Regions from separate parts of the Homo sapiens genome. Here region 1 is linked to region 2. The links come from fine-mapping of genetic effects on gene expression. A gene starts in region 2. The other region holds a variant in brackets. All regions are shown on one strand. Distances are from middle to middle. Region 1 overlaps LINC01451 (long intergenic non-protein coding RNA 1451). Region 2 holds the start of PTGDS (prostaglandin D2 synthase).

Region 1 (12,090 bases), 370 kb before region 2:
ATGAGCACGAGGTGTCCCTCCACCGCACCCTGAACACATGCAGGTCCTCCCAGCTCCGCATCGAGAACTGCCTTCCCCATCGCCTCAGCTGGGACACCATCCATAAAGGGCTGGGGGAAAGCCCCCTCCTCCAGGAAGCCTGCCGTGATAGCCCACCTGCTGGGCTCCACTTGCTTCTCTGACGGATGGCCATGGCCAGGCACATCACCCCCATTTTCAAGAGGAGGGGGTTTCCTGGGGTCTCCCAGCAAGTCAGTGGGGAAGCTGGAAGCCGCCACAGGCTGAGCCCCATGCCTTGGGGCTGCCCCACACAGGCTCAGAGAGGCATCGGACCGGGGGCCTGGGCCTCCACCACTGTCTGCGAATTTCAGCCCAGAATCCCCTGCCCTCCCCCAGCCCCACCCAGGCCACCCTTTCCACGAGGGTGCCCGAGGTTCCATCTCCGGGCTTCCGCCTGCCCAAGCTGTTAGGGCCATGCTGACTGGCTTATCAGCTCCTTCCCCTCCCACCGCCCGCCTGGGGGCCTGCCCAGGCCCAGGGCCCTGCCTCTTCAGGCGCTGCCAGCACACTGCACGTCCAGGCTGGAGGGGACAGCAAGCAGCGCTGGGGCAGGGGAGGGCGGCAGGAGGCTGGAGGCTCTCCATGTACTCACTGCTCCGCTGGCCAAGGGTGCCTGAAGGTGGGAACCAGAGGCCATGGCACCCCAGGACTGGGTGCTGGGTTCCCACAGGGAAGCTAGGTGAGCTCAGGGCCCTCCTGCCTCCCGGGTTGTTCTAAGAGCCTGTGGCCCTCCTGAGATCACGGCGAAAGTGAACTCGGCCTCCTGGGGTCACGGGGAACATGAGCCCGGCTTCCTGTTCTTGGGGCTCACAGGGGCACCGGGGCCTGGGTCAGGAGAGGCCACTCAGTGCTGGGCAGCCGAGGGTCAGCAGGGCTACGGCCAGCAGATTCTCGGGCCTGGAGGCGCCCTGTGCCTCATAGCTGTGGCCACAATTCTCAGCACCCCTGAGGGCTTGCCCAGGCCGCCCGTCTGCTCCATGTGAGAGGAAAGGAGTCCAGGCCGCCTGAGCTGCAACTGCTCAAATCCACGTTCTTCTCGTCATCTCCACGTTTAGTTCTACAGTAACTCATTCATTTCATAAGTGGCACAATATTGGCTCACTGCAGCCTTGACCTCCCAGGCTCAAGAGAGCCTCCTGCCTCAGCCTCCCGAGTAGCTGGGACTACAGGTGCGTGCCACCATGCTAGCTAATTTTTAATTTTTTTTTTGTAGAGATGAGATCTCCCTATATTGTTCAGGCTGGTCTCGAACTCCTGGACTCAAGTGATCTTCCCCGCCCGGACCTCCCAAAGTGCTGGGATTCCAGGCATGAGCCACCGCACCTGGCCCATTTAACAAGTCTTTACCAGGCCCCTAGTGTGTGCAGGCTCTGATCCTCCAACCAAACAAGCCAATCGGGATCGGTGGAGACAGCAGTGGGTTCAGTGCTGGGGCCTCAGGCAAGGCCTGTGCCCAGGCCGGGAGGAGGGCAGAGAGCCAGCGCTGGGCAGAAGGAAACCCAGGAGGCGTGTTCTGGGGGTTTGAGGTCTGTCTGGACACCAGTGTGGCTGGCACCATAGGATCCGGGCCACGTGGGATGTAGAGGGGGAATCCCGTTCCAAGCCCCTCCCCTGGACGGCAGCTCTTGGCTGGGCCCCAGGCAGGACCTGAGGCTATTTCCAACCCGCCAGAGGCAAGGCCCCGGGGCCGGCTGTTTGCCTGAGAGACCTGGGTGACGCCAGCTGCCTGGGTGGCTACAGAGGCACTTTCAAGAGCCAGGCACAGGGACAGAGCTTTGCTCCAGCCTCAGGGGTGCAGCCGTGCTCTGTGGGCCAGGGGAGCCTGCAGCAGGCCTCCAGCTCCCTCCGCCCTGCAGACGCCCAGCTCTGCAGCCTCGTCCCATATCCAGGCCCTCACACTGAGCTGCCTGAAGGCCCCCAAACTCATGAGGCTGCTGGGCCTCTGTCCAGGCTTTCCCTCTGCCTGGAGTGCCCCTCACCCCTGCCCTGGATCACCCAGCGAGTGTCTGTCTCTCTTTAGGTCCAGCTGAGATGTAACCCCCAAACCTTCCCAACAAGGCTGGCACTGCTGGGGTCCCACACCCCACTTTGCTCTCTAAACGGGAGCTGGACACCTGTGTCAGGCTGCTGGGAGACGGGGGCACCCACAAGCCCTGACGTTACCCCGAAGGCCCCTGGGAGGCCCAGGCAGTGGGAAGGGACGGCCTCTGGGAATCCCCCTTCTGCCTGGCCTCCCTCTGTGTGGAGTCATGAGGAGTGGATGGCCCTCGAGGGGAGCCCGTCCAGCCAGCCGCCCTCTTGAGGGAGAAGCCACGTGGCCGTGAAGCTGAGAGGCCCTGCACAGGGACCTGTCCTGCAAGCAAGGCCGGCTCCGCCCTGGGAGTCAGCAGCCACCTTTACTGTACGTGTGAGAGTGAAGCCGCCTCCTCTAATTACACCCCTGGACCTTCTCATCCGCCCCCAGCCCTTCCAACTTCAAAGGCCTCTGGCCCCTGGCAGGGAGGGAAAGTTTCTGGGTGCCTGTGAGTACCCTGCCTCCTTGAGGCAGAAGCGTGGGCTCCATCCAGGCTGAGGTGGCAGCCGGGCCCTTTCTCCCGGGCCTGGGGTGCGGTGGGGCTGCCAGCTGGCAGTGTGGGCAGTGCCCTGGCCTGTGATGCCCCCACCTGCTCGTGGCACTTTTAAGTTGGGTCCATCCTGAGTTTGCCAACTGGCTGCCCTGAGCTGCAACCTTGGCCCTGGTCCTGTCCTCAGGGGGTCCCAGCCAGAGACACACAGAACCACACCCAAAGACCACAGTCTACCCTGCATAGGGGTGGGGTCCCAAAGACCAGAGCTGGGGCAGGAGGGGAGCTGACGGGCAGAGTGGCCCGCGGACGCCCAGGGGCAGCTGGTCTGGACAGGTGTTTGGGGAGGCGGAGCAGAGGGTTCCCAGGCCAGGGACCCAAGGGGGTGGGCCCAGTGGCTAATTCCAGATGGAGCCAACATGCACCAGGGAGGCTGTGCGGGGAGGGCCCGGACAGTGACGCCCCCACGGCTGTAGCATGGAGTCGCCCCGCCCTGCCTTGGCCCCCAGCAGCTGGACAGCTCCGCACAGATCCAGCGGCTGGATGGTTCCCACAAGGCCAGGAGGGAATGAAGGCCGGGTCAGAGCACCTGGGCTGAGACACCAAACAGAGCCACCTGCGTGAGGATACCAGGGTGTGGAGCCTGCTGGTGACGTTAGCAGAGGCCCAACGTCCAGGAGGAGGGAGGTGATTTTCTCTCTCCTCAACAGTCCAAGGCCAACTCACTGGCCCAGGAGGCCTCCCTCACCCCTGACTGCTGAGTTGCTGCTCCCAACACCTTTCTGCCCACATGGTCCTTTTAGAGCTGCCGCCCCCCAGCTAGCCTGGTGCCAGCCAGGGACTGGCAGTTCCCTTCTGCGTCCTCAGCCCAGCCTGAGGACACCTAGAGGAGGTACACAGTCAGCATCAGCTTGGTGGAAACATATTCCCTCCCTCATGGCTTTGTCCTCAAAGAAGGGAGGAAGAATAAAGGAGGGGAGGAGGGAGGGAAGAAGAGAGGGAAGGAGGGAGGGAGGAGGGAGGGAAGGAGAGAAGGAGGAGGGAGGGAAGGAGGGAGGGAGGAGGGAGGGAAGGAGAGAAGGAGGAGGGAGGGAAAGAGGGAGAGAGGGAAGAAGGGAAGAGAGAGGGAAGGGGAAAGGAAGGAGAGGAGAAGGGGGAAGGAGGGGAGAGGAAGGGAGGGAGGAAGGGGGAAGGAGGGAGGTAGGAGGGAGGGAGGGAGGGAAGGAGGGGAGAGGGAAGGAGGGAGAGAGGAGGAAGGGAGGGAAGGAGGGAGAGGGAAAGAGGGAGAGAGGTAAGGAGGTGAGAGGGAGGGAGGAGGGAGGGAAGGAAGGAGGGAAGGAGGGAAGGAGGAGGGAGGGAGGGAAGGAGGGGAGAGGGAAGGAGGGAAGGAGGGAGAAAAGAGCTCAGGAATCCTTTAGCCTTTGAAGTGGCTCCCAGGGGGACAGCCTCACTGTCCCTGCCCCAATTACACAGTTACACAGTAAGAGCACCAATAAAACCTGAGCATTTGATCCCAATTTCAAAGATCTTTGATCCAGCCTGTGCCTCCCCTGTCCCTGTGCCCGGGGCGCCGGGTGGGGCCCAGCCTGGCCTCCCTGGTCCTCCTGCAGAAGCCCCTCCGCATCGCTCTCGGCCGGGTCTGTATCTCTCCTCCCCATCTTCTCTGGATGCTTCTGTGACTCTCTCCTGACTGGGTCTCTCTCCTTCAGTCAGTCTCCCACTGTCTCTCTGTCTCACTGTCTGTCTCTTTCTGTCTCTTTGTCCTCTGGGCACTGGCCCCACTTCCTGGGAAAACAGGAGCTGCGGGGTCTCCTTGTTGAGGGACAAATGCCAAACGGGCCGGGGCCATCTGCTCAGGGGCCCTGGAAAACTGGCCCAAAGCTCCAGCAAATGGCCCTGACGATGGGGCCTTCCCCGCCCCTGCCCTCTGCGGGGCTCTTCCTGGAGAGGCTGTAAAGAGTTACTGAGTGTGTTTCCCCCGGGTCTGTTGCGGGCAGGCGGGGTACCTGGTGGCTGGGGGAAGGGAAGGCATGGCATGCCCCTGCTCTGAGGAGGGCATCCCAGGGAGAGTGGGGGTCTTCTCCCCTGGAATATGGCCCAGACCCCTATCTCAGGAACCTGAGGCCCCCAGGGCAGGGCCAGGCGGGTGGGCGGCCATGGCCAAATAGGGGCTCCAGGCAACTCCCGGTCAGTGTTGCGCGGCCCCTCCCTGCAGCTGCCCCTCCAGGGTGTCCACAGGACATTCCCAGTGCCTGCTGCACCCCCAGCCAGCTGCCCCAAGGTCACATTTCTTGGCAGATAACCCTCCCAGCACCCACTGACTGGCCCCGGGCCCCAGACTTTTCCTGAGCCCCCTCTCCAACCCCCCGCACTTTTTGGGGACCCACTTTCCACCATCACCGCTAGGGACAGGTCGGGCTGGGGGCAGGTCAGGCTCGGAGGGGAGGCCCCTGGAGGAACAGTGGCTCTGAGGGTGAGCAGCTCCTTGGGAAGCACCGCTGTAGCCGGGCCAGAGGACCGCGGCTTCTCTGCCTTTCCCTCGGCAAATCTTTTCCGAGCACCTGCTCTGCCAGGCCTGGAGCAAGTCAGTTGAGGTGCGGAGGAGACTGGGCACTCTCTGTCCCCCAGAGCCCATCTGTGGGGTGGTGGCAGCAGCCACAGGCCTTCAAGCGCTCAGGCCTGGGGCTTGGAGGGTGACCCAGAGGTCTGCGCTGCCTGGAAGGCTGCCGCCCCTGCGCCCTGGGGTACTAGATGGCCCTGGCATGCGCCTTGGAACGAGCGGGTGGCATTGGGGTATCCAATCTCCCCCCGCCCCTCCCTGCGATGCTGCCTCCCTGCCAGAAGTGCTTGCCAGTGGAATTGCCCCTCCCACCGGGCCGGGCAGTGGAGGGCAGAGCTATCAGAAGGCTCCCCAGCCCTCATGGGCTTCAGGGGACAGAGGGACCAGGGAGTCGGGCAGGTTTGGCCAGCTGCCACCTCCCTAAGGCACCTGCAGGGAAGGGCGGCAGTTTCTAGGAAGCCAGCTGGCAGGGTGGTCCTGCCCAAAGGGTTACCGAGGGCTGCTGTGTGGAGTGGGGCTGCAGCTCAGCCAGGCCTGGGGAGGCGATGTGACTGCAGCACTGGAGAGCCCCTGCACAGCCCGCCGCCCTGCGCTCCAGAACCTACCGTCCTCTGGGGCTCCCAGGGCCAGGTGTCGGCTTCACAGCAACAAGGCCCAGGACTTGCATGGGGCGGGGGAGGGGGGTGGGGGGGCGGAGGGGAGGGCGACTTCGGTGTTTTCCAGCATTATTCTAGTGGCCACAGCCCCCAGGCCTGTTTCCTCTG[T/C]AAATGGAGATGGCAGCCCACCCCACGGGCGCTGGAGGGGAGCTGACCCTCAGGCCAGTCAGGAGCCCTGTGACGGGACTCGCTGGAGGGCACCCACCCTCGGGACCAGGCTCCCTGGACTCCAAGCCTGCGCCCCCACGTCCACCCTGCTGGTAGGAGGCCTCGGGGTGTGGCCCCTGCCAATGAGCTGCTCCATGAGGCACTGAGCCATTGACCTCTGCCCCAGGCTGTGTGGCCCGAGGCTCAGCGCTCAGCAGTAGATATGGGCATGAGGGGGAGGTCAGGTCAGAGCCGCAGAGCTGGGAACTCAGCGCTCAGCAGTGGACGGTGGGTTCCGGGAGCAGAAAAGGTTCTGGCCTCTCCCTGTAGCCTGAGCTGGGAAGGCGGCCATGGGGGGCAGGTGCGGCCAGGCAGGGGAAGCGGCCATGGGGGGCAGGTGCGGCCAGGCAGGGAGGGCGGCCATGGGGGGCAGGTGCGGCCAGGCAGGGAGGGCGGCCATGGGGGGCAGGTGCGGCCAGGCAGGGGGGGCGGCCATGGGGGGCAGGTGCGGCCAGGCAGGGGGGGCGGCCATGGGGGGCAGGTGCGGCCAGGCAGGGGGGGCGGCCATGGGGGGCAGGGGCGGCCAGGCAGGGGGGCGGCCATGGGGGGCAGGTGCAGCCAGGCAGGGGGGGCGGCCGTGGGGGGGCAGGTGCGGCCAGGCAGGGGGGGCGGCCGTGGGGGGCAGGTGCGGCCAGGCAGGGGGGGCGGCCGTGGGGGGCAGGTGTGGGCAGGCAGGGAGGGATCCCTACAGGTGGCAGCTCACGCTGCAGGACCAGCGGCCCCAGGAACACAAGGGCTGCCCTGTGTGTGTCTGGGGGACCAAGGGGGTGAACCTAGGCAGCCGTAGACCACAGGCTGGGTGGCCACTCATGTGGAGTCCAGGGGACCCAGGGAGCTCCAGGAGGCCTCTGGAACCCTCCAGAACCTTCCAGAACTTCACACTTGAATTTTGTTCTGTCCCAGGCAGGTTCTCCAGCCTCAGGTCCAATGGCCAACTCATGCCCAGGGCAGGCCCAGTGTGGGGCTTGGGCGCCGAGGGAGGGACCGCACACCTTGAGTTCCTGCCGAGTCCAGAGAATGGAGGAAGTGGCCAGTGAGGGCCCAACTTGCTGGTGGGCCTCTCTGAGCCCAGCATCCTCTTCTGAAATGGGGGCGTGATGTTCCTGCCTCCCAGGGAGATCTGCAGACCAGCCCTGCGAGGTGTGGAGTCAGCCCCTGCGCGTGCCCGGTCCCCACTCACATTGCCACCTGCCTCCGGTGTGGCTGCGAAGTCGGAGGGAGGAGAGAGCCAGCCAGGGGTGTGGGCGCCAAGATCAGAGACTCGCACGCTGCTGGACGGAATGTGGACCGGCCCAGCTGCTGGGTCACCTGCCGGCAGCTCCCGAAACAACCAGTCACCACGAGACCCAGCAACTCCACCCCTAGGTGTGCGCCCAAGATAAACGGAAGCTCCTGTCCGCACAAACACCCGTGCGGCTTCCTTCACTAAGGGTGGAAACGGCCCGGGTGCCCATGGGTGGGTGACGGATGAACCGGGTAGACCGTCTGTACAATGGAATATTTATCCTTCCGCCACAAAAACAGAAGAAATTCGGACGCAGGCTTCAGTACGGACGGGGTTTAAAGTTGTGATGTGTACGCCACAGTCCGTGTGTGATTCCATTCCCGAGAAGCCCAGCGCTGGCCAGCCCCTGGGAACAGAAGGTGGCTGAGTGGGTCTTTATGGCTGGGGGGCTGGGGCTGGGCTGATGACGTTTATTTTTGATGAAAATGTTCTGGGCCAGGCTTTGTGGTGGCTCACAACTGTGATCCCAGCACTTTGGGAGGCCGAGGCGGGCGGATCACCTGAGGTCAGAAGTTCAAGATCAGCCTGGCCAACATGGTGAAACCCCATCTCCACTAGAAATACAAAAATTAGCTGGGCGTGGTGGTAGCACGTGCCTGTAATCCCGGCTACTCGGGAGGCTGAGGCAGGAGAATTGCTTGAACCCGGGAGGCAGAGATTGCACTGAACCGAGATCGCGCCACTGCACTCCAGCCTGGGCGACAGAACGAGACTCCGTCCGAAAAAGAAAAAAGAAAATGTCCTGAATGGACGGTGGTGACGGCCGCACGTAGCTGAACGTGCTGGAGATGGTGGAATCGCCACTGTCGGTGGAGAAATTCATGGAGCGTGAATTACGGCCGACCCCGGAAAAACGCGGGTTTGAACTTTGGGCTCACCTGCACGTGGATTTTCTCCTTTCTCTGCTGCTCCTGGGTCAGCAAGACCAGCCCCTCCTCTTCCTTCTCCTCCCCAGCCTCCTCAGCATGAAAAAGACCAGGATGAAGACCTTTAGGGTGATCCGCTTCCACGTGGAGACGAGGAAATGCATCCTCTCTTCCTTAGGATTTTCCGAATGGCATTTTCTTTTCTCTGGCTTACTGTATTGTAAGAACACACTATATCACACATTCACGATACAAAAACGTGCATCGACTGTTTATGTTATTGGTAAAGCTTCTGGTCAATAGTAGCCTATGAGTAGTTAAGTTTCGGGGCAATCAAGAGTTATACTTGGGTCTGGCGCAGTGGTTCACAACTGTAATCCCATCACTTGGGGAGGCCGAGGCGGGCGGATCTCGAGGTCAGGAGATCGAGACCATCCTGGCTAACACGGTGAAACCCCATCTCTACTAAAAATACAAAAAATTAGCCGGGCATGGTGGCGGGCGCCTGTAGTCCCAGCAACTCAGGAGACTGAGGCAGGAGAATGGTGTGAACCCAGGAGGCGGAGCTTGCAGTGAGCCAAGATCCCACCACTGCACTCCAGCCTGGGCGACAGAGCGAGACTCCATCTCAAAAAATAAATAAATAAATAAATATAGAAACCCCAGCACTTTGGGAGGCCAAGGCAGGCGGATCACCTGAAGTCAGGAGTTCGAGACCAGCCTGGCCACATGGTGAAACCCCATCTCTACTAAAAATACAAAAATTAGCCAGGCATGGTGGCGTGCACCTGTAATCCCAGCTACTTGGGAGGCTGAGGCAGGAGAATCACTTGAAACCAGGAGGTGGAGCTTGCAGTGAGCCGAGATTGCACCACTGCACTCCAGCCTGGGCAACAGAGCAAGACTGTCTAAAAATATATGTATATATTTTTTTTGAGGTCAAGAGTTTGAGACCTTATAATATATATAAATAGAAGGATTTTCAACTTTGTGTGGGGTTGGCGCCCGAGTCCCCCATTGATCAAGGGCCAATTGTGTATCTCAATAAAGCTGTTAAGACAAAAAAGACTTGCCCAGACTCCCTGAGCAGGGTCAGGGCTGCAGAAGCCAAATGGGCTTGGGAGGGGCTGGCCGGCTGTGGCTCTGTTTTCACTCTGCAGGGTCCCTGGGTGTTTATTCAGCAGGCCTGGGCCCTGCTCCCCACCCAGCCAGAGGCCTCCTCCCCTCCCCGGAGTCTTCCCAGAGGATGTTTTTCCAGGGCCCGGCTGGGCAAATGGCATTTGGATTCTGGCCGGGGAAGCCTGGGGGGACAGTCCCCACGTCCTAGCCCCGTTTGGAAGCAGCCTGTTTCCTCCAGCATCCAGCCAGAGCCCTGCGGATTCATTCTCGGCCACCCGCTGCCCCTCGGAGCTGTGGGACCCCAGGGGGTGCACCTCCTGGGCTGTGCTGGCCTTGGCAAGGCTGGGCAAGGCGAGGCTGGGCCAGGCACCCCTGAGCGTGAGGGACCTGAGGAGGGGTTCAGGCAGGAGCCTCGTGTGGTCTCCCTGTGATGATATTCGGGGCCCCCGACCCCTGCCCGGTGAGGGAGCATGTGGAGCGTCAGGGCACACGGGATGCACAGCTCAGCAGCCCAGGCAGGCCTCTGGTGGAGACGTCCCACACCCCACCCCACCCTCCGCCCCGGCTCCCGCCTTCCCCACCCCCAGACCCGGCCCCTAATCACAATGCACTTCCCACAGCTGGTCCCCACAGCGAGCTCTGCGCCATCCGGATTGAGTGGGGGTGGGTGGGAGTTTTCCCAGAAACGGGCCTGTGAGTCACCAGCCAGGCCAGGAAGTGGCTGCCTCCTGTCCAGCCCCCCAGCTGACCACTGGGCCTCAGTGTGGATCACACAGCAAGGCCATCCATGGTGACCCGAGGACTGACTGAGCGCCTGCTGCCCCCCAACCTCCAGGCGCTCCCAGGCTGTGACTGAGACTGCGGTCAGCGGCCCCGTGCGGGCCCTCATGGAGGAGCACGAAGAACAGGTGCTTCAGGGAGGACAGGATTTTGGGGAGCCCCTGGGGGGGCCTTCCTAGAGGGGAACACGCGTGGGGAGCCCTGAGGTCAGAGCTGACACGCGTGCGAAGGAGGCCTTGGAGGCTGCAGCTCAGCAGGTGGGGCCGGGCTGGGCCCCGAGATGGAGAGGGGAGGCCTTCCCAGGGGCTGTCAGGCCAGGGGTGCCACCAGGAAGCCCAGAGGAGGGGGGGGCCGCTCCTGGGCCCCAGTCACCCAGCCTGGTATATGAGAGTAGGGGGGACCAGAGAGGGAAAGATGGTAGGCAGCCCCAGGCCACACAGAAACCCAGGCAGGACCGTAAAACCCAGGCCTCGACCCGTCAGCCTCCAGCCGCTCTCCGAGGCACCTTGCAGGGGGTGGGATGGCAGTGGGGAGCCTCTCACAACAGGAACTGGGGTCCCAGATGCTGCCCGGAGCCTGGAACTGCGAGTGGCCGTGGCGGTGGCTGTGCTGCTCTTATACGGGACACCCCGGCACCCGAAGGTCGAGCAGGGACCCAGCCCCTGCCACAGCACCTGCCAAGCATCTGGGTGACACTGTGGTCGGGTGGGGCGGGGGGCTTAAGTCAGGTGAATTTGTCAGCTCGGGCAGCTGTGACAAAGTTGCACAGACCCTGGTGGCTTCAACTGCAGGAACTGATTCTCCTGGAAGCCCGAGATCCAAGGGCTGGCTCTTCCGAGGCCCCGCTTCCCGCTCTTGCACACCGTCTTCCTGAGGCGCCCTCACATGGCCATCCCTCGGGGCGTGTCTGTCCCAATCTCCTCTTCTTACAAGGACGCCAGTCATATTGGATCAGGGCCACCCTGTCTTACCTTGACAACCTTTACCTGTCTCCAAACACAGTAGCACACTGGGGCCCTGGGTGCTAGGGCTTCAGCTTGTGAATCTGAGGGCCTTTGTCTGCCCAGGCACTGCCTCCAATAGAACCTTTGGTCCTGCAGGCCGGCAGGTGCCTCTGCCTCCATGCAGCCTGGCCTTAGCCCTGCCTTCATTCCACCTCCCCTCTGGGACTAGGGATGGTGCTGGGAGGCCAGACAGGCTTTGGGGAAGTTACCTGACCTCTCTGAGCCACGAGGTCTTCATTTACAGGATGTGGCTGTGTGTCTCACTGTGACTCTGGGGAGGGACAAGGCTTAGTCAGTGCCTGCCCGGACGCCCACACCCAGCACACAGTAGGTGCTCAGAAAACGCAGCCCAGATTGTTGGAGGCAGAGGGACCCAGGGGCCCCTGGAACAAAGCCCTCGTTGAGCTGGTAGAGACCAAGGCCAGAGAGCCCTAGGCACCTCCCCCGTCTCCCAAGGCCTCTGGGGACCCCCTTTCCACCGAGACCCCTCTGCCCCTGCCCCTCCGGTGACTCGGTGGTTCCCACGTCAGTGACAGCAGGGCCCCTCCCGCCCAGGACAAGCACCACCGCAGGCTGGGGCTGCCTTTCCCTCCTCCGTCTCCCCTCTGCCCACTCGGATCCCACCAGCCTCCTCCAAGGGCCTGTCTGGCCTGCCCAGTCTGCGGGACTCCAGCCATGGTGACGATTCCCCACCATCTCTTGGGAAGGACTGGAGTCATGGTTCAGCTCCAACTGGGGGAGTGCTCCGGTTGCCAGCGGCCAGAGGACCCCGGGGTTGGGGCTGATCCTCGTCAGTCACCCCATCACCAGCTGAAGACCCCCAGCGCCTCCCATGCCCCCTGAGGTGAGGGGGCTGCCTGGAGCATGTGCCCCTGGGGTGACTCGTCCAGGCTACCAGAGAGGCTGCCCAGGAGCACCCGTGTGAGGGGCTGGCCTGGCTCCCATCGTCAGGCACGTGAGGCTGCATGGGGGCTGCATGGGACTTCGCG
Region 2 (8,520 bases):
AGGAACCCCAGAGTGAGAGGCAGGAGCCCCCATCTCAGGGGCGTGGGCCCAGGCTCCCTGTGTGCCACCCCACGTTCCCCCGATGGGAGGCAGGAGTCCCTGAAGATCCAGGCCCAGCCCTGACCGGGGGTGGGCACAGAGGTGGGGAGCAGCCTCTGGGATCGGGTCTCCACCTGTGCCCTGCCGGAGCCAGCCCCTGCGCTGAATGGTACTTCCGGCTTCTGGTCTCTGTGGGGAGCGGTGCCCAGCCTGGTGCTACAGTGACCCAGGGGTCCTTAGGCGAGGCCCTCCCAGGCTTGGCCCCTGCCCAGACCCTGCCCTCCTGGGGAGCTCCCGCCCAGCCCCTAAATGGGTGAGGTGGGGACACTTTAGCCCTGACCTTCCATGGCCGAGCTGGGCGCTTCCTGAAGCCAGACTGGGCCTCAGAGGTCCACTGCACCGGGATCCTGGAGCTGAGCTTCTCGAGGCCAGGGGTGTGGGTGTGGTGTCGGGTGTGGGTGCGGGTGTGGTGTTGGGGGTTGGGCCGCCCCCTCCTCCCGGCCCTGCTACCTTTGGGATGCGGCAGCCTCTGACCAGCCTGCTGGACCCCACATTGGACAGATCGTTCAGCACCCCCAAATTGCCATCTGTCCCCCACAGACAGCCAGCCTAGCCCTGGCTCCAAAGCTGCAGAATTGGCTGAGGCTTGGCCATAACCGTCTTTGGACCCCATGGCCAGCAATGCACATATGAGCCTCAAGTCCCAGGGACATATCTGCTCCCCTATCCTCTGGCTTGTCCCGGGCTGCCCTGTCCTCTGCGCCGTCCCCGGCTGCTGGGCGGGCCTGACCTCCAGGGTGGTGCTGGGAGAGGTGGCCAGAGGCAGCCAGAAAGGGTGAGCGGAGAGGTGGCCGTCCCCCATGTCAGTGAACACCCAAACAGACAGGCACAGAGAGGAGGGCTGGGTGAAGAGTGGGTCCCATGTGCTTTGAGCAGCTCAGAGATGCCCTGAGGAGGGGCTGTCCCACGTGGCCCGTCCACTCAGGCCTCCTTCAATCACAGAGCAGCTCCCTTGACGCAGGGAGGCCTTGGGGAGAATTTCTTGCCCCTAGAGGAGCCCTGAGCTGCCCCCACCGCACCCGGCCCTGGTCTCCCCGGCTACAATCTCAGGGGTGCTCCTGCTCTGCCCCTGACTTGTCCAGAACACTCCACAGCGTCTCAGTGATCCCGGGCACTGCCCTTCCCTATGGAAGATCCTCAGCGGGGCAGCTCTGGCAGGAGTGAGCCTCTGGGGCCGTGAGGCTTGGGTACCTCTGAAAGGTGGGGTGTAGAGGCTGCCCCTCCCCAGTCCCAGGCTGGGGGAGTTGATCCCAGGCTGCAGGTGGGTGGGGCTCACGAGGTCCCCATGAGTTTATTTGAGGCTGGTGGACACTCAGTCGAGCTCAGCTCCCACCAGTCACTGGGACAGCCTCGGCCCTCAAGGGCAAACCATTGGTGGGGATGCTGGACAGGGTCATCACTGCCCCCGGAGGATGCTGGCCGGGGCCCCAGGGTGGAGACAGCTTCCCTCCAGGAAAAGGTTGGGGTCAGTTCTGGGAGCTTAGGCCCAGGCCACCAGGCTTGTCCATGACCTGCCTGGGCCGCAGGCAGGGGGATGGCCTTGGTGACCTCTTAGGGTGGAGGCCAAGTCTTTGCATTTTGTGACTCAAAGAGACTGGTTCCCAGAGAGCAGGGTGGGGCGGCCAGCCTTCTTCCTGCCCAGCCCTCCGCCAGGCTCCACTAAGGTCCTGCCTGGCAGCCAAGCTCAGAGCAAAGGGAAGGGCACAGAGAGTGTGCAGGGTGGTCCTTGTCCCTGCCCAAGCTGCAAGAGGCTCTGCGAAGGTCCCTCCTGCCCCTGTCCACCTTGCACAGTCCTAGCCGGGGGAGGAGGGGAGAAATCTGGCGTGCCAGGAGCTGGCAACTGCCCAGCCCTTCCTGGATGTGGTGAGAGATGAATCTCCAGCCCTCGGGTGGGCCCAGGTGCACCCATGAATCAGGGCTCGTGGGCAGCTCCCACTCACTGGTCCTCACTCAGCCGTGTCTGGGGAGTGTCTCTGACCACCTGCTGGCCATCTTGACCACAGGGACTGAGGAGTCCGTCCTGAACCGAAGCATGATCCTGTTAGCTCTTCCAGCTCTCCAGGCGCCAACGACCATATGGTCTCGGTAACGACTGGTCAGGGAGGAGAAGGGACATGGGACCTGCTGGGCTTTCTGCAGCCCACTAGAAAATGGGGAAGAGGAGGGGCTTGGTCCCTGTTCCAGGCACTGGGTTTGAGGGCTGGACACCCGAGATCCCTGGGAACCCCTCTGGCTATGGGAGGACCCGGCCCCATCAGACTTCAGAGTCCCTCCCTGGCAGGTGACCCAGGCCTGCCCAGACGGAAGCCATTCAGACCCAGAGCCACGTGTCCTGGGTCTCCCTGCCCCGGGCCACCCGCCACCACACCCCAGAGCTTGCTCACCACCGGGAGGCGCTCTTGTCCTGGACCAGCCTAGCCTGGGTTGGGACCTCCAGCCAGGCCAGTCAGCGAGCCACCAGCCCCACCAGAGTGGAATGACAGCCAGGACTCAGCTGGCAGCGGGCAGGAGGCCAGTCTTGTGGTGATATCCCAGCCGCAACTCTCTTCCTGCCCCTCCCCTGTCCTGACGGCAGCCCCCAGCTCTGTAGCTGAGCCAGGCTTGCGGGCCACGCGGGGTCCCGGGTTTAGGCACCCCACCCCTATCTGTTCCAACAGACTCTCCCTCTCAGCCCATGGCACAGATGGCATCTGAGCTAGCAGCACGCTGCTGCTTCAGGCAGGGGTTGATAGGAGGTCCAGGTGGAGGAGTGGGTTCTCAGGACTGCCTTGGCCCCCCTGCACCGCTGCCCTCCTTCTCCCTGCCTCTCAGGTGCCTCCCGGCTCCCTGGGACTCACTCCCTCACCTTGGCCTCTGCCTGGGATGCTACCCGGCCACCCCCACCAGCCCTGACACCAGTGCTGCCCACTAGCCCCTGCTGCTACATAGGCATGCGCCTCCCCCAGTCTGGGCTCCTTGACCCCCGGGCACTGGGGAAGGGGAACAAGGAAGCAGTCCACACCAGCCCACTCCCAGGGCTCGTGCGCCCCCAGCAAGGGATGGGCCACAGAATCCAGGAAGAAGACGGGCTCCGGCCCCCAGTGGTCGCCAGCAGCCCCGTAGAAGCTCACCACCCCACCCCATCCGACTCACTCCTGCTCTCATGTACATTTCCCAGCTCCCCACCCGGGCTCACCTTCAGACCAGCGGCAGCGCTCACCCACCACGCCTGCCAGGGAAGCTCAGTCCCAACAGAATCCAGAGAGGGCCCACCACATGTGCCTGCCTGTGACGGCCTGTGACAGGGCCCCAGCCAGGGCCAACGAGCTGGAGGGGCCCAAGGAGCTGGGTGCAGCGCTGGGGTAACAGGACAGCCCCACGGGGTGCTCCCGAGTCTGGACCAGACTCGGGGTGGGGAGGCCCAGACTCGGCGGGGGGCAGACTTGGGGTGGGGGGATTGCTGGGGGAAGTTGGGGCCTCTGGCAAGGGATAGGGCCTGTGCTCAAGCCCAAAGGTGCCCCAGGCTGAAATGGGCACCCAGGGGTCACTATCAGAGCCCCAACAGCTGGCCATGGGGGAAGCCATGCCCAGCAAACCTGGCCCTCGGGACCCTGCGGGCCAGATCAAGTTTCTCTACCTTGGCCTGAGCTTCTCATCAACACTTCACTTGCTGGGCGTTTCAGGACCAAACTCTCAGGGTGGAAGTGGGGCTTGTGTCCCCTTCTGGGGTGGCAGGGCTCGGAAAGGGAATGATGGTAGGGGCTGTGAGATGTGGGTCCTGGCCCCCAGTGGGAAGTCACCAGAGGCCTCGGAGGCGGGCATGGCTGAGGAACACAGCCCCTGCCCTATCAGGGCCGCTGGGTTGGTGGGCCCTGCCAGCAGGAGGAGGGTGGGCAAGGTCCCTGCCAGCTCTGTCTCTGGGACCAGTGGGCAGGGGCCTCTGCCTCACCCCCACGCTGCCTCAGCTGGGGCAGCAGGCCCAGGCCTCTTGCATAAGCGCCCTGTGGGGGACGAGGCTGCAGCTGTGCCTGGCCACCCCATCCCCCAGCATCACGAGTGTTCAGTGGGCTGTCCCCGGGCCCTGGGTGGAGGCCAAGCCTGGCCCATAAATAGGGGTCTCCTCAGTGCCCTCCGCTCCTCCTGCACACCTCCCTCGCTCTCCCACACCACTGGCACCAGGCCCCGGACACCCGCTCTGCTGCAGGAGAATGGCTACTCATCACACACTGTGGATGGGACTGGCCCTGCTGGGGGTGCTGGGCGACCTGCAGGCAGCACCGGAGGCCCAGGTCTCCGTGCAGCCCAACTTCCAGCAGGACAAGGTGAGGGGCTTTCCTGCGTCATCCCCAAGGGCTACAGGACCCTGTCAGGGGAAGGGCACTTTCCGGCTGGGTCTTCCCCCTGGGAGGAGTGAGCGAAGTCCCGCAGTGCCGGGCAGTGCCGGCCAGGGACTGAGCGGGCGCGCAGGAAGGAGGCTGGGTAGCCGCCCGAGGAGGCTGCCCGCGAGAAGCCCTCCCTGGGCACCGCGTCCCGTCTCCCCTGATGGGCCACGCAGACACCGGGCCACACACGCGCCCACGCCAGCCAGACACGTCCACCCCTGTGGGCACGCGACCCCCAGAGGACACACGAGCGCACGTTCCACACCTGGGTGCCAGGACACGGGCGGGTGGGGCACAGGGATGGCGACAAACACTCCGTGCGCGGTGGGGGTTGGGAGGGACGCGCACCGCACAGACAGCCGGCGACGCGCGCTCTCGCCCGGGAGCTGCTCGGGGAAGCGCCGGAGCGCGGGTCCCCGCGCCGCGCGCCCCTCCCTGGCGTCGAGGAGAACCCCAGCGGTCCGCAGAGCTGAGCCGAAGACCCGCCCCGATCCCCGCCAGGAATGCGACGTCCTCTGCCGCCCGCTGTATGGGCCAGGCGCTCAGCCAGGGCACAGAATCGGGACCGGGGGCGGAGGGGCCGAAGCTGGCTGGTGGGCGGCGTGCGAGGGTGAGGGACTGTCCTCGGGAGGGGCGTGGCCAGACGGGGGTGCTGGGTGTCAGGGGCGTGGCCAGCTTCTGGGGCTGAGGCGTGAGGGGCGGGGCCATCTCCGGGGGAGGGGGAAGTGGGGCGTGGTCATCTCCTGGGGCGGGGCGTGAGGGGCGGGGCCACCTCCCGGGGCGGGGCGGGGGCCTGATGGGCGTGGTCAGCTCCTGGGGCGGGGACGTGAGGGGCGGGGTCAGCTCCTAGGGGGGCATGGGGCGTGAGGGGCGCGGTCAGTTCCCTGGTTGTGGACATGAAGGGCGGGGCCAGCTCTTGGGGCGGGGTCGTGAGGGGCGTGGTCAGCTCCTGGGGCGGGGATGTGAGGGGCGGGGTCATCTCCTGGGGCGGGGATGTGAGGGGCGTGGTCAGCTCCTGGGGCGGAGATGTGAGGGGCGGGGTCATCTCCTGGGGCGGGGATTGAGGGGCGGGGGTCAGTTCCTGGGGCGGGGCGTGAGGGGCGTGGCTGCTCGGGGGATTGGGCGTGGGGGCGGGGCCGGGTTGGAGACCGGAGGAGTAGACGGCAGAGGCGCCCCCGCAGGTAGGCGCAGGTGGGTCCGGAGGGTCCTGGCCGACGCGGGTGGGGGTCGCTCGCCGCAGTTCCTGGGGCGCTGGTTCAGCGCGGGCCTCGCCTCCAACTCGAGCTGGCTCCGGGAGAAGAAGGCGGCGTTGTCCATGTGCAAGTCTGTGGTGGCCCCTGCCACGGATGGTGGCCTCAACCTGACCTCCACCTTCCTCAGGTGGGACAGCGGGCAGGTGGGTTTCTGGGACGGAGAGGTCCAGGGACACCCTCGGGCCTAACCCCTGACCCTGAGGTCACCCACCTACAGGAAAAACCAGTGTGAGACCCGAACCATGCTGCTGCAGCCCGCGGGGTCCCTCGGCTCCTACAGCTACCGGAGTCCCCGTGAGTGGGGCCTCCACCGGCCCCCTGGGCCCAGCCTGGGGGCGACACTTGCCGGGACGACTCTGGGCCAGCCCCCTGCCGCGGAGATCCATGGGGTGGGAGGTGATGGCTGCCCCACCAGCGTCAGAGGCAAAGGCCAGGCCTGGGCGTGACTACCCATGCACAAGTGTTAGGGACAGAGAGACCCTTCCTCCAGGGGGTTGGATCCTCTCTGGAGCCCACCATTGTCTTGTCAGGCCCCTTCCCTGCCCTCTGGAGTTTTCCCCACATAAGCAGCCCCCCAAGGCCCCTCCATATGCCTCCTCCCAATTCTCCTCCCCAGGACCCAGGGGTTTCCTCACTCCCACCTGGGGAATGGCTCCCACGGGGAAACCTCTTCACTTCCGGTTCTGGCAGCGACTTCTGCGGCTGCACCAGGAATCCTGGTTTTCTGAGCCTGGCTCCCCCAGATTCTGGTTTGGGGACAGGGTTCACAGGCTGTGCAGGCGAGAGCAGGGCACTGGCTGGAGAGCAGCCGGGTGGGGGAGCATCCCGGGCCAGCCGAGGGGCTGAGTGCCCCCAAAGCCCACAGGTGCACCCCTTCCCTGAAGCAGAGGTGAGGTTTGGGGGGCTGAGTCCCCGACAGGGTTGTCTCTTGGGTTCCCAGACTGGGGCAGCACCTACTCCGTGTCAGTGGTGGAGACCGACTACGACCAGTACGCGCTGCTGTACAGCCAGGGCAGCAAGGGCCCTGGCGAGGACTTCCGCATGGCCACCCTCTACAGTACGTGCCCCGTGGACGCCGCCCACACGCAGGCCTGACCAGAGGGGGCTCCCCAAGACCCAGGGCAGGGCACACAGCATCCCCCCCGCTGAGGCCAGCTCCGTCTCCACCCTGTCCCAGGCCGAACCCAGACCCCCAGGGCTGAGTTAAAGGAGAAATTCACCGCCTTCTGCAAGGCCCAGGGCTTCACAGAGGATACCATTGTCTTCCTGCCCCAAACCGGTGAGGGGTCCTAATCTGATGGGGAGAGGATCAAGGTCAGATTAGAGGCAGGCAGGCAGTCTCCTGACTGGGGGAGGCAGAGGGGAGGAGGTGGCCCCGCCCTGCTCGAGGCCTGGGCCAGGGACAGAGGGGGTGAGTGTTCAAGTCAGAACCTCCCTCCCGCAGCCCCTTCATGAGGAGCCCCCTCCATGGGGGACATGGAGACCAGGCGCCCACTCTGTGCCAGGCCCCAGCAGCTCCCAGGATGTGGGGCTTCAGCCTGGTGGGGGGCATAGGGTAGAGGGTGCCCATGGGGGATACAGGGGAACCAACCATACTGGGCTCAGGCACAGCCTCCTAGGGGTGGACAGCCTGCTCTTGGCAGAGGTGGAGAAAGACCCTCTCTTTGTTTCCAGTGCCCAGGGAGAGGTGGGAGGTGATGGGGGATCTGTGCAGTTTGGGGGCTCAGTCAAGACGAGCTCTGCGTTACGGGAGGAACAGGAAGCCCAGTGGGAAAATTGGCCTAAGTCTGGGGTTCTGACGACAGCCCCTGGCTTCTTTCTTGGCAGATAAGTGCATGACGGAACAATAGGTGAGCCACTCCATTCATTCATTCATTCATTCATTCATTCATTCATTCAACACACATCCACCCAACCCACTCTGCGATGGGATGGATCAGGGCCCCAGGACAGCCTGGTGCTGCAGACCCATCCTTCCCGATGGCTGCAGTCCAGGGCCGGGCGGGAGACACTGGGGCTGCCCACATTGATGGGTGCACAGGTGTGAGGCTCAGAAGGAAAACCTGTCCCAGTGGCTGGAACAGGGCTGACTCCTGAAGGCTCATGGTTGGGGGGTGCAGGTGCGAGGCCCCAGGCAGACAAGGCCAAGGGGCTATACCACAGGGACCACCTGGCAGCAAGGGTGTCTGGCTCCTGGGCTAGGAGGAAACCAGGGTGGGGGAGACAGGATGGGAGGGAACAGGGGATGGAAGGGGAGGGCCAAGGACGCTACATGGATGCCGTGGGACAGCTCGGAGAGCAGGCTCAGGGCGGATTCACCCACCACCCCCAGGAGGGAGGCCTAGGCTGGAGCTGGAGTCTGTGGACCCTGGGGCTGGGAAGGGTGGAGTCTGTAGACCCTGGGGCAGCGGGGATCCAAGCCCCAGGGATGGATCTTGCTCTCTCAGCGGGGCTCAGTGGGGCTGGGGGCAGAGAAAAGTCCCCGTAGCCCGCACCTGCTCCATCGACTGGAGTGGAGGTGGGCTGGGGTAGACTGCAGTCCTCCATCCTAGCCTTTCGGTCACACCCCTCAGGACTCCCCAGGGCTGAAGCTGGGATCCCGGCCAGCCAGGTGACCCCCACGCTCTGGATGTCTCTGCTCTGTTCCTTCCCCGAGCCCCTGCCCCGGCTCCCCGCCAAAGCAACCCTGCCCACTCAGGCTTCATCCTGCACAATAAACTCCGGAAGCAAGTCAGTAGAGCTGGCTCCTGGCTGTCTGCGCTGTCATCACCCGTCCTGGGCCTGGCCCTGGCCACCCGGACCTCCCC

What was found. PIP is the estimated chance that this variant, and not a neighbour inherited with it, causes the effect.
Region 1: its variant is the best candidate, but not a certain one, in a credible set for the expression of PTGDS in pancreas (GTEx, PIP 0.72).

The regions. Positions count from the first base shown.
Region 1 is chr9:136,604,493-136,616,582 of GRCh38, forward strand. It overlaps LINC01451 (long intergenic non-protein coding RNA 1451), which reads right to left. Exons shown (of 3, transcript NR_135288.1): 1 at 9,632-12,090; 2 at 8,211-8,411; 3 at 7,536-7,678. Among named protein-coding and RNA genes, the nearest start is that of LINC01451, 6.6 kb to the right of the region's middle. RefSeq lists silencers at 195-375, 10,825-11,119 and enhancers at 981-1,830, 2,681-3,530. The variant T/C (reference allele first, on the strand shown) is at 5,949.
Region 2 is chr9:136,973,293-136,981,812 of GRCh38, forward strand. PTGDS (prostaglandin D2 synthase) reads left to right here and starts at 4,212. Exons shown (of 7, transcript NM_000954.6): 1 at 4,212-4,400; 2 at 5,701-5,840; 3 at 5,931-6,007; 4 at 6,654-6,770; 5 at 6,891-6,992; 6 at 7,541-7,563; 7 at 8,287-8,450. The coding sequence starts at 4,287. The coding sequence ends at 7,563. It also overlaps LOC124902312. RefSeq lists an enhancer at 5,272-6,251.